3 linked regions of the Homo sapiens genome follow. Changing the gene in region 1 together with any one later gene gives a genetic interaction. Each region holds a gene or a part of one and is shown in the gene's direction. Other genes may lie near its edges. The genes, in order: CRYBB1, LCK and PLA2G4C.

The links.
Region 2: changes in CRYBB1 (region 1) and LCK together harm fitness more than expected from each alone (negative genetic interaction), as found in Homo sapiens cells (one large-scale study listed by BioGRID).
Region 3: changes in CRYBB1 (region 1) and PLA2G4C together harm fitness more than expected from each alone (negative genetic interaction), as found in Homo sapiens cells (one large-scale study listed by BioGRID).

What each region holds. Positions count from the first base shown.
Region 1 is NC_000022.11:26,611,528-26,615,175, reverse strand, and holds part of CRYBB1 (beta-crystallin B1), read left to right. Parts: intron 1-2,985; coding exon 2,986-3,104; intron 3,105-3,648. UniProt on the Homo sapiens protein: Crystallins are the dominant structural components of the vertebrate eye lens.
Region 2 is NC_000001.11:32,271,617-32,275,264, forward strand, and holds part of LCK (tyrosine-protein kinase Lck), read left to right. Parts: intron 1-2,504; exon of another isoform or gene 2,505-2,581; coding exon of another isoform or gene 2,582-2,713; coding exon 2,714-2,818; intron 2,819-3,120; coding exon 3,121-3,202; coding exon of another isoform or gene 3,203-3,376; coding exon 3,377-3,467; intron 3,468-3,648. UniProt on the Homo sapiens protein: Non-receptor tyrosine-protein kinase that plays an essential role in the selection and maturation of developing T-cells in the thymus and in the function of mature T-cells. Plays a key role in T-cell antigen receptor (TCR)-linked signal transduction pathways.
Region 3 is NC_000019.10:48,051,692-48,055,339, reverse strand, and holds part of PLA2G4C (cytosolic phospholipase A2 gamma isoform 1 precursor), read left to right. Parts: intron 1-290; coding exon 291-462; intron 463-2,192; coding exon 2,193-2,343; coding exon of another isoform or gene 2,344-2,347; exon of another isoform or gene 2,348-2,386; intron 2,387-3,648. UniProt on the Homo sapiens protein: Calcium-independent phospholipase, lysophospholipase and O-acyltransferase involved in phospholipid remodeling with implications in endoplasmic reticulum membrane homeostasis and lipid droplet biogenesis.

The sequences.
Region 1 (3,648 bases):
TTTGCAACCCCTAGTTCATGACACGCTCTCATGTGGTCAGTGCGTGGCAGGTTTTTATTTATGTACCTATTTAATCATTAGTTTTATTTAATTTCTAATAATGCAATATGCACCTACAAACCCACCACCCATATAAAAGCCAGGACTTGGTTAAAAACTTTCTACCTAACTCTAAGGTGTCTCCCTTGAGTCCATCATTTTCCTCCCCAACTCCAGGAAATACTGTCCTATCCTCAACCTGTGTCTGTAATCTGCTTGCTTGCTTTTGTATACAATTTTATGCATTATTCCTTTAAAAATGTATACACACATACACATGTATATTTATTTACTTGTTTTATTTATTCATTTATTTTGAGACCGAATTATGAGACGGGTTTTGCCATATTATCCAGGCTGGTCTCGAACTCCTAGCCTCCGCCTCCCCAAGTGCTGGAATTATAGGTGTGAGCCACCGCAACTGGCCGATTTACTTGTTTTTAATTTATTGAAATATGCAATGTGATTATTCTGGGCTTTTCTTTGTACTTTTCACTTACTATGAGATCCCTAATATCCATCCATATTGTTGCGCATGACTGCCGGCCATTCATTCTGGCTGCTGCCTGATATTTCAGAGCGTGACCATCTCTTTCCTGCTAAGCACGATTTCAGTGGTTGCTAGCTTTGCTCTCGTGAACAGCATGGCTTGGACGTTCTTATCCCTGTCTCCTGGTATCGGGGAACCTGCCCCGATATTCACATAGATTCTTTTCTATTTTTCCTAAGCGTCGGCCAGCTTGAGAAATAAAGGGACAGAGTACAAAAGAGAAAAATTGTAAAGCTGGGCGTCCGGGGGAGACATCACATGTCAGTAGGTTCCGTGATGCCCCACAAGCTGCAAAAACCAGCAAGTTTTTATTAGGGAGTTTCAAAAGGGGAGGGAGTGTGAGAATAGGTGTGGGTCACAGACATCAAGTACTTTACAAGGTAATAGAATATCACAGGGCAAGTGGAGGCAGGGAGAGATCACAGGATCACAGGACCGGGGCAAAATTAAAATTGCTAATGAAGTTTTGGGCACCATTGTCATTGATAACATCTTATCAGGAGACAGGGTTTTGAGATCAACCGGTCTGGCCAAAATTTATTAGGCAGGAATTTCCTCTTCCTAATAAGCCTGGGAGAGCTATGGGAGACTGGAGTCTATCTCATCTCTGCAGCGTCGACCATAAGAGACGACCACGCCCAGGGGGGCCAGTTTAGAGACCTAACCCCAGGTGCGCATTCTCTTTCTCAGGGATGTTCCATGCTGAGAAAAAGAATTCAGCGATATTTCTCCCATTTGCTTTTGAAAGAAGAGAAATATGGCTCTGTTCTGCCCGGCTCACTGGCGGTCAGAGTTTAAGGTTATCTCTCTTATTCCCTGAACAATTGCTGTTATCCTGTTCTTTTTTAAGGTGCCCACATTTCATATTGCTCAAACACACATGCTGTACAATTTGTGCAGTTAATGCAATTATCACACGGTCCTGAGGCGACATACATCCTCCTCAGCTGACAGGATTAAGAGATTAAAGTAAAGACAGGCATAGGAAAGCACAAGGGTATTGATTGGGGAAGTGATAAGTGTCCATGAAATCTTTACAATTTATGTTTACAGATTGCAGTAAAGACAGGCATAAGAAATTACAAAAGTATTAATTTGGGGAACTAATAAATGTCCATGAAATCTTCACAATCCACGTTCTTCTGCCATGGCTTCAGCCAGTTCCTCCGTTTGGGGTCCCTGACTTCCCGCAACATCCCGGGGCACACATACAGGAGTTTCTCTTGGGCAACCAAAGGTAGAAGTGGAAGTGCTGGGTCATGGTTATATGAACCTCCCCTCCTCTTACAGCTGGGGAAACTGAGGCTCAAAGAAGGCAGAAAATTGTGCCTTGGTCCATGTGAATGGCAACGTTGTCCCAACTTGGAACAGCAAGTGGACAAGGAACCAAACATGAGGCTTAGTGAGGAGAGAAGATTAGCTCAAGTTTTCCCCTATGTTGTGGAGGGTTGGATTTGCAAGTGTCTCCTGAGCATCAGCTCTGTGGCAGGTACTGGGGCTGGGGCTGGAGATACAGAAATTGATCAACCTCAGGCCCTGCCCTGGAGGAGTCCTTGGTCTTTGGAGGGGCTGGGTAATGGGAGAGAGGGAGTGCAGAGAGAGAGGGAGACCCCAAAGCAAAACAGCAGTGACTGTGTGGTGGGTTAGTTGTGCTGCTAATGGGGAGAGGACAGTGGGGGATGCTCAACCAAGGCCGATGGAGGAAGGGGCAATCAGAGAAGGCTTCCTGGAGAAGGTGGCACCTGAGCCTAAAACAGAATAACGAGCTGGAATGCGTATTAGGGAACTTCAGTTAGGCAGTGGGAGCTCCAAGCTGGATATGTGTGGTGGAGAAGGCATTCCAGGCAGGAGGAATAGCACAAAGAAAGGCCTGAAAGGGAGGTTCATAAGTTCCTAATGATGGCGCAGATCTTAGCTTCAGAATTAGGGCATGAGGCCAGGTGCAATGGCTCATGCCTGTAATCCCAACACTTTGGGAAGCCAAGGCAGGCCAATCATTTGAGCTCAGGAATTCGAGACCAGCCTGAGCAACATGGCAAAATCCTGTCTCTACAAAAAATAGCCAGGCATGGTGGTGGGTGCCTGTAATCTCAACTACTCGGAGGCTGAGGTGGGAGGATCGCTTGAGCCTGGGAGGCGGAGGTTGCAGTGAGCCATGATTGCGCCACTGAACTTCAGCTGGGGCGACAGAGTGAGACTCAGAAAAACAAACAAACAAACAAAAAACAAAAATCAGTAAAGAATTGGGGGATGGGAGGACAGGATCATTTCACAAACTGTGGCTCATCACACTTTTATGTGACTCCTGCACTGCTGGCTTTTATTTATGTAGATACTTAATGAATTTTTGACTCCCCCCTCACTCTGCCCTTGGCATGGGGGCTTCTCTCCTGCAGCTGGTGGTCTTCGAACTGGAAAACTTCCAGGGCCGTCGAGCAGAATTCTCGGGGGAGTGCTCAAATCTGGCAGACCGTGGCTTCGACCGTGTGCGCAGCATCATTGTCTCCGCGGGACCGTGAGTACTGGGCGGCGGAGGGGCACACTCTCTGCCACAGTAAAATGACCACACAACAGTAGCTGCCATTTCTCCAGCATCTGCTCTGTGCCTGCGGCCGTTCGTACTCCTGGCACATACATTATGTCCAATCCTCATATCAAACTGAAGAGGGAGGAATTGTTCTCAATCTCATTTTACGGATGAGGAAACTGAGGCTCGGAGAGGTGATCCAATTAGCATAAGATCACACTGGCAGTAAGCCATGGTTCTGGGCTCTGGAGAAATGCTGCTTCTACTATAGCAAAAACTCTAGCCCGGCCGGGCGCGGTGGCTCACGCCTGTAATCCCAGCACTTTGGGAGGCCGAGGCGGGTGGATCACGAGGTCAGGAGATCGAGACCATCCTGGCTAACAAGGTGAAACCCCGTCTCTACTAAAAATACAAAAAATTAGCCGGGCGTGGTGGCGGGCGCCTGTAGTCCCAGCTACTCGGGAGGCTGAGGCAGGAGAATGGCGTGAACCCGGGAAGCGGAGCTTGCAGTGAGCCGAGATTGCGCCACTGC
Region 2 (3,648 bases), on another chromosome or scaffold:
TTGGGTCATTGCACTGCAGTCTGGGCAAGAGAGTGACACTTTATCTCAAAAATAAATCAACAAATAATAAAATTGGAGATTAGGCTTGCTGGTTTCTAAGACCTTTGCAGATGGGAGACTCTATGCATTAACACTGCATGTTCCAGTTGACATTTATTAACTAATTTTGGGTGCTGGTGGCTTTCAGACAAATAAACTACAGCTTCTGCTCTTGATGAACCCCCACTCTCATCAAAGGTATGGGAGAGGCAGTGGGACCCTGGGGCTGACATGTAAATCAGTAATCATGGAACTCTGTGTCTAAGTTGATTATTGAGGTCTGAATAGAATGTTGCAGGAGACTGGGGTGAGAGGGAAGCAAAGAGCATTGGGAAGTCTTCAGACTAGGTGATATTTAGGCCAGGTGCCTGTAATCCGAGCACTTTGGGAGGCTGAGGCAGGAGAATTGCTTGAGGCCAGGAGTTCGAGACCAGCCTGGCCAACATGGTGAAACCCTGTCTCTACTAAAAATACAAAAGTTAGCCAAGCGTGATGGTGCATGCCTGTAATCCCAACTACTCAGGAGGCCGAGGCAGGAGAATTGCTTGAACCTGGGAGGTAGAGGTTGCAGGAAAAAAAAAAAAGGTAATATTTCAGCTGAGCCTTGAAGGTTGAGTTAGAATTCAGCAGTTGGACAAAAGAGAGCATGCCGACTGGGTTCGGTGGTGCATGCCTATAATCCTAGCATTTGGGGAGGCCAAGGCAGGAGGATTGCTTGAGCCCAGGAGTTCGAGATCAGACTGGGCAACATAGTGAGACCTCATCTCTACAAAAAAATAATCAGCTGGGCATGATGGTGTGCACCTTTAGTCTCAGCTACTGGGGAGGTTGAGGTGGGAAGATTGCTTGAGCCCAGGAGGTCTAAGGGGATTGCGCCACTGCACTTCAGCCTGGGAGAGGAAGGGAGACCCTGTCTCAAGAGAGAGAGAGAAAGAGAGAGAGAGAGAGAAAGAGAGAGAGAGAGAGAAAGAGAGAGAGAGAGAGAGAGAGAGAGCGAGAGAGCGCACGCATTTCAAAGCAGGGAGAACCACAAGTACAAAGGCATTAAGTAAGAAAATAGCATGGGGTGTTTGGGAAAGGCAAGAATAGTTCAGAACACAGGCTGTGTGTGTGGGGGTGTGTGGGGGTGCCTGTGTGTGGGTGTTTGTGTGTGTGTGAGTGTGGGTGTGTGGGGGTATCTATGGAGGGGATGCCTGTGTGTGTGTGTAAGGTGAGTGTGTGGATGTGTGCATGGGTGTGGGTGAGTGTGTGGAGGTGCCTGTGTGTGTGTATGAATGTGTGTTGGGGAGGGGAGAATGTGTGTGTGTGGGGTGAGTGCGTGTGTGTGGGGGTGAATGCGTGTGTGTGTGTATGTGGGTGTGACTGTGTGGGTGTGTGGACGAGTGTGTGTGTTCCTGGGTGTGGGAGCCTGTGTGTGTAGGGGGAGTATGTATAGGGTGTGTGCATGAATGTGTGTGTGGGTACGTGTGTGAGAGTGGGTGCCTGTGTGTGGGGGGTGAGTGTGTGTGTGGGGGGGCACTTGTGGAGGGTGAGTGTATGTGTTTACTGAGTGTGAGTGTGGGTGCCTGTGTGTGGGAGGGTGAGTCTGTGTGTGAGTGTGTGGGGGAGTACCTGTGAGGGGTGAGTGTGTGTGTTTATGTGAAAGTGTGTGTGTGTGGATGCCTCTGTGGAGGTGGGATAGGGGGTGCCTCTGTGTGTGTGTGTGAGAGTGTGTGTGTGTAGGGTGTGTATATGTATAGGGTGTGTGTGAGTGTGTGTGTGTGAGAGAGTGTGTGTGTGGCAGAATAGACTGCGGAGGTGGATTTCATCTTGATATGAAAGGTCTGGAATGCATGGTACATTAAACTTTGAGGACAGCGCTTTCCAAGCACTCTGAGGAGCAGCCCTAGAGAAGGAGGAGCTGCAGGGACTCCGGGGGCTTCAAAGTGAGGGCCCCACTCTGCTTCAGGCAAAACAGGCACACATTTATCACTTTATCTATGGAGTTCTGCTTGATTTCATCAGACAAAAAATTTCCACTGCTAAAACAGGCAAATAAACAAAAAAAAAGTTATGGCCAACAGAGTCACTGGAGGGTTTTCTGCTGGGGAGAAGCAAGCCCGTGTTTGAAGGAACCCTGTGAGATGACTGTGGGCTGTGTGAGGGGAACAGCGGGGGCTTGATGGTGGACTTCGGGAGCAGAAGCCTCTTTCTCAGCCTCCTCAGCTAGACAGGGGAATTATAATAGGAGGTGTGGCGTGCACACCTCTCCAGTAGGGGAGGGTCTGATAAGTCAGGTCTCTCCCAGGCTTGGGAAAGTGTGTGTCATCTCTAGGAGGTGGTCCTCCCAACACAGGGTACTGGCAGAGGGAGAGGGAGGGGGCAGAGGCAGGAAGTGGGTAACTAGACTAACAAAGGTGCCTGTGGCGGTTTGCCCATCCCAGGTGGGAGGGTGGGGCTAGGGCTCAGGGGCCGTGTGTGAATTTACTTGTAGCCTGAGGGCTCAGAGGGAGCACCGGTTTGGAGCTGGGACCCCCTATTTTAGCTTTTCTGTGGCTGGTGAATGGGGATCCCAGGATCTCACAATCTCAGGTACTTTTGGAACTTTCCAGGGCAAGGCCCCATTATATCTGATGTTGGGGGAGCAGATCTTGGGGGAGCCCCTTCAGCCCCCTCTTCCATTCCCTCAGGGACCATGGGCTGTGGCTGCAGCTCACACCCGGAAGATGACTGGATGGAAAACATCGATGTGTGTGAGAACTGCCATTATCCCATAGTCCCACTGGATGGCAAGGGCACGGTAAGAGGCGAGACAGGGGCCTTGGTGAGGGAGTTGGGTAGAGAATGCAACCCAGGAGAAAGAAATGACCAGCACTACAGGCCCTTGAAAGAATAGAGTGGCCCTCTCCCCTGAAATACAGAAAGGAAAAGAGGCCCAGAGAGGGGAAGGGAATCTCCTAAGATCACACAGAAAGTAGTTGGTAAACTCAGGGATAACATCTAACCAGGCTGGAGAGGCTGAGAGCAGAGCAGGGGGGAAGGGGGCCAGGGTCTGACCCAATCTTCTGCTTTCTGACCCCACCCTCATCCCCCACTCCACAGCTGCTCATCCGAAATGGCTCTGAGGTGCGGGACCCACTGGTTACCTACGAAGGCTCCAATCCGCCGGCTTCCCCACTGCAAGGTGACCCCAGGCAGCAGGGCCTGAAAGACAAGGCCTGCGGATCCCTGGCTGTTGGCTTCCACCTCTCCCCCACCTACTTTCTCCCCGGTCTTGCCTTCCTTGTCCCCCACCCTGTAACTCCAGGCTTCCTGCCGATCCCAGCTCGGTTCTCCCTGATGCCCCTTGTCTTTACAGACAACCTGGTTATCGCTCTGCACAGCTATGAGCCCTCTCACGACGGAGATCTGGGCTTTGAGAAGGGGGAACAGCTCCGCATCCTGGAGCAGTGAGTCCCTCTCCACCTTGCTCTGGCGGAGTCCGTGAGGGAGCGGCGATCTCCGCGACCCGCAGCCCTCCTGCGGCCCTTGACCAGCTCGGGGTGGCCGCCCTTGGGACAAAATTCGAGGCTCAGTATTGCTGAGCCAGGGTTGGGGGAGGCTGGCTTAAGGGGTGGAGGGGTCTTTGAG
Region 3 (3,648 bases), on another chromosome or scaffold:
AGCCTCATCTAGGCACCATTTTCCTTGCCCTCTGAGTCCCGCAGCCCCCAGCCCCAAAGGTTACTCTCTAACCTCGCGAATGTTGTCTCTAGGTGGGCTGGGGAGTGCGGGTGATGGCAGAGGCTTACTCTTTCCCTTACAGAAGATGTTGTCCCTGTCCAAGCTGACCCTTGCTCTGTTGTGTGTCTGGGCTGTTAGCTGAGGTCCCATTGGGTCTCCAGGCCCCAGGGGTCTTCTGGAGGGGTCTTCTGGAGAGGTCTTGCAACCATTTCTTATTGCCTCCTTCTCAGACCATCCGGGCTACCACTGACTACTGCCGCCGCCACAAGATCCCCTTTCCCCAAGTAGAAGAGGCTGAGCTGGATTTGTGGTCCAAGGCCCCCGCCAGCTGCTACATCCTGAAAGGAGAAACTGGACCAGTGGTGATGCATTTTCCCCTGTTCAACATAGATGCCTGTGGAGGTAGGTGCAGGGGAGGAGCAGGTGAGAAGCCACCTGTATTAGTCCATGCTCACACTGCTAATAAAAACATACCTGAGACTGGGTAATTTACAAAGGAAGAAGGTTTAATTGACTCACAGTTCAGCATGGATTGAGAGGCCTCAGGAAACTTACAGTCATGGTGGAAAGCGAAGGCCAAGCAAGTCACCTTCTTCACAAGGCGGCAGGAAGGAGAAGTGAGTGCCAGCAGGGCAATTGCCAGATGCTTATAAAATCATCAGATCAGCCGGGCGCGGTGGCTCATGCCTGTAATCCCAGCACTTTGGGAGGCTGAGGCGGGCGGATCACAAGGTCAGGAGATTGAGACCATCCTGGCTAACACAGTGAAACCCCATCTCTACTAAAAATACAACAACAAAAAAAAATAAATTGCTGGGCTTGGTGGTGCGTGCCTGTAATCCCAGCTACTCAGGAGGCTGAGGCAGGAGAATCGCTTGAACCTGGGAGGCGGAGGTTGCAGTGAGCTGAGATCGCGCTCCTGCACTCCAGCCTGGGGACAGAGCAAGACTCCTTCTCAAATAAATAAATAAATACATACCATCAGGTCTCGTGAGAACTCAACTCACTGTCACGAGAACAGCATGAGGGTAACCACTTCCATGCTTCAATTACCTCCCACGACACTTGGGGATTATGGGAACTACAATTCAAGATGAGATTTGGGTGGGGACACAGCCAAACCATATCACCACCAGGCCAGGCCGAATGGAGCTGTGCTGTGCCCTGGGGACATCTTGTTACGCTCCAACATCTGATGGTTGAGTGAGTCATCCTGTCCACCCTTGGGCCTGGAGGATGCCAGGCTGCCTCTCTCGGTCTTGCATGTTTATGCATGTTGCTGCCTCTCTCTGCAGCCTTCTTGTCCTACCTGAATATCCAACCCCTTCCACCTGGGCATCCCACATTCCTCATCCAGTCTCAGGTGAGCAGCTGCTTGGAAGGCCTAGCATCCAGGATGGGTGGTCCTCCGGGGCCTGATTGTGCCACTTCCCACAGTGGGCTCCTTTTAGCTTGTCAATCGTGTCTCCTGCGATGAGACTCCCATTAGGGATAAATTGTGTCTGTTTTCTTCCTTCATTTAACGAACATTTATTGGTTACCTATGCTGCATCAGCCATGGTTCCAGGAGAGGCAGGCTAGAGTAGTAAAGAAGACAGGAAGCAGGGGGCCAGGCGCGGTGGCTCACGCCTGTAATCCCAGCACTTTGGGACGCCAAGCCGGGGCAGATCACCTGAGATCAGGAGTTTAAGGCCAGCTTGGCCAACAGGGTGAAACCCCGTCTCTATTAAAAAATACAAAAAATTAGCCAAGCGTGGTGATGCACGCCTGTAATCCTAGCTACTTGGGAGGCTGAGGCAGGAGAATCGCTTGAATCTAGGAGGTGGAGGTTACAGTCACCCAAGATTGTGCCATTGGACTCCAGCCTGGGAGACAAGAGCGAGCCTCTGTCTCAAAAAAAAAAAAAAAAAAAAAAGAAAAAAGGACCGGAAGGGGCATGGATCATAAAAATATAGATAAATCCATAACCTCATGTGTCAATAAAACTTTATTTATAAAGCCAAAGTAGTGGGCCGACTGGATTTGGTCCACAACTGTAGTTTGCCAAGCCCTGATGTAAATAGACAAAAATCTGCAGAATTAATTGTCCAAACTCATGATGCCTTTTCTTTGTTGGTTTGGTTATGCTTCAGGTGATATTGAGGCATGGAGTGACACATACGACACATTCAAGCTTGCTGACACCTACACTCTAGATGTGGTGGTGCTACTCTTGGCATTAGCCAAGAAGAATGTCAGGGAAAACAAGAAGAAGATCCTTAGAGAGTTGATGAACGTGGCCGGGTAGGTGGGAGACCATAGTCGCTCTGATGCCTATGCTCGTTCAGTAAGTATCTGTTGGAGAACTTTCTCTGCAACAGGCAGGAGGGTTGCATGGGTGAAAAAAGATAGGCAGTGTCTCCCCTACTTGAGCTTGCGTCTCAGCAGGGGACAGACCATGAACAGGGTCAGGAGTGAATGGTTTTCTGAAGAGTGAAGCAGGCTGTGTTCGTTTGCTAGGGCTGCTGTAACAAAATACCACTAGCTGGGTGGCTTCACAGAAATTGATGGTCTCATGGTGCTGGGGGCTGGAAGTGTGAATTCATGGTATCAGCAGCGCTGGTTCCTTCTGGGATCTGTGAGGGAGAATTTGTTCCACGCTTGTCTCCGTGTATATTGGTCCGTTTTCACACTGCTGTAAAGAACTACCTGAGACTGGGTAATTGATGAAGAAAAGAGGTTTAATTGACTCACAGTTCCGAAGGCTTAACAGGAAGCATGGGTGGGAGGCCTCAGGAAACTTACAATCATGGTGGAAGGTGAAGGGGGAGCAAGCACATCTTTACCATGGCAGAGAAGGAGAGAGAGAGAGCAAAGCGGGAAGTGCTACACACTTTCAAACAACCGGATTTCATGAGAACTCCGTCACTATCACAAGAACAGCAAGGGGGAAGTACGCTCCCATCAATCACCTCTCACCAGGCCCCTACCCCAACACATGGGAATTACAATTTGAGATGAGATTTGGGTGGGGACACAGAGCCAAACCATATCTCTGTGAAAGGAAAATGAAATCTCAGGACCCCAATTCACTATGCCAAAAGGAAAAACTTAAGCTGTGGCTGGGCACTGTGGCTCATGTCTGTAATCCCAGCACTTTGGGAAGCCAAGACAGGAGGATCGCTTGAGCCCAGGAGTTCAAGATCTGCCTGGGCAACATAGTGAGACCAAGTCTCTACAAATAATTTTAAAAATTAGCTGGGTGTGGTAGCACAAGCCTATAGTCTCAGCTACTCAGGAGGCTGAGGTGGGAGGATTGCCGGAGCCCAGGAGTTTGAGGCTGCAGTGAGCTATGATGGTACCACCCCACTCCAGGCTGGGCGACAGAGCAAGACCTTGCCTCTAAAAAAAAAAAAAAAAAAAAAAAAATTAAGCTGAAAGCTTAATTAAGCTGAGTCATGCAAGAAACTGTCTTTCCTTTTGTTCCTAAGCCACAGATAAAAGGCCACAGATATCTCCACAGGTAACTTACTCTATCGATATGGTTTGGCTCTGTGTCCCCACCCAAATCTCATCTCGAATTGTAATCCCCACATGTCAAGAGAGGGA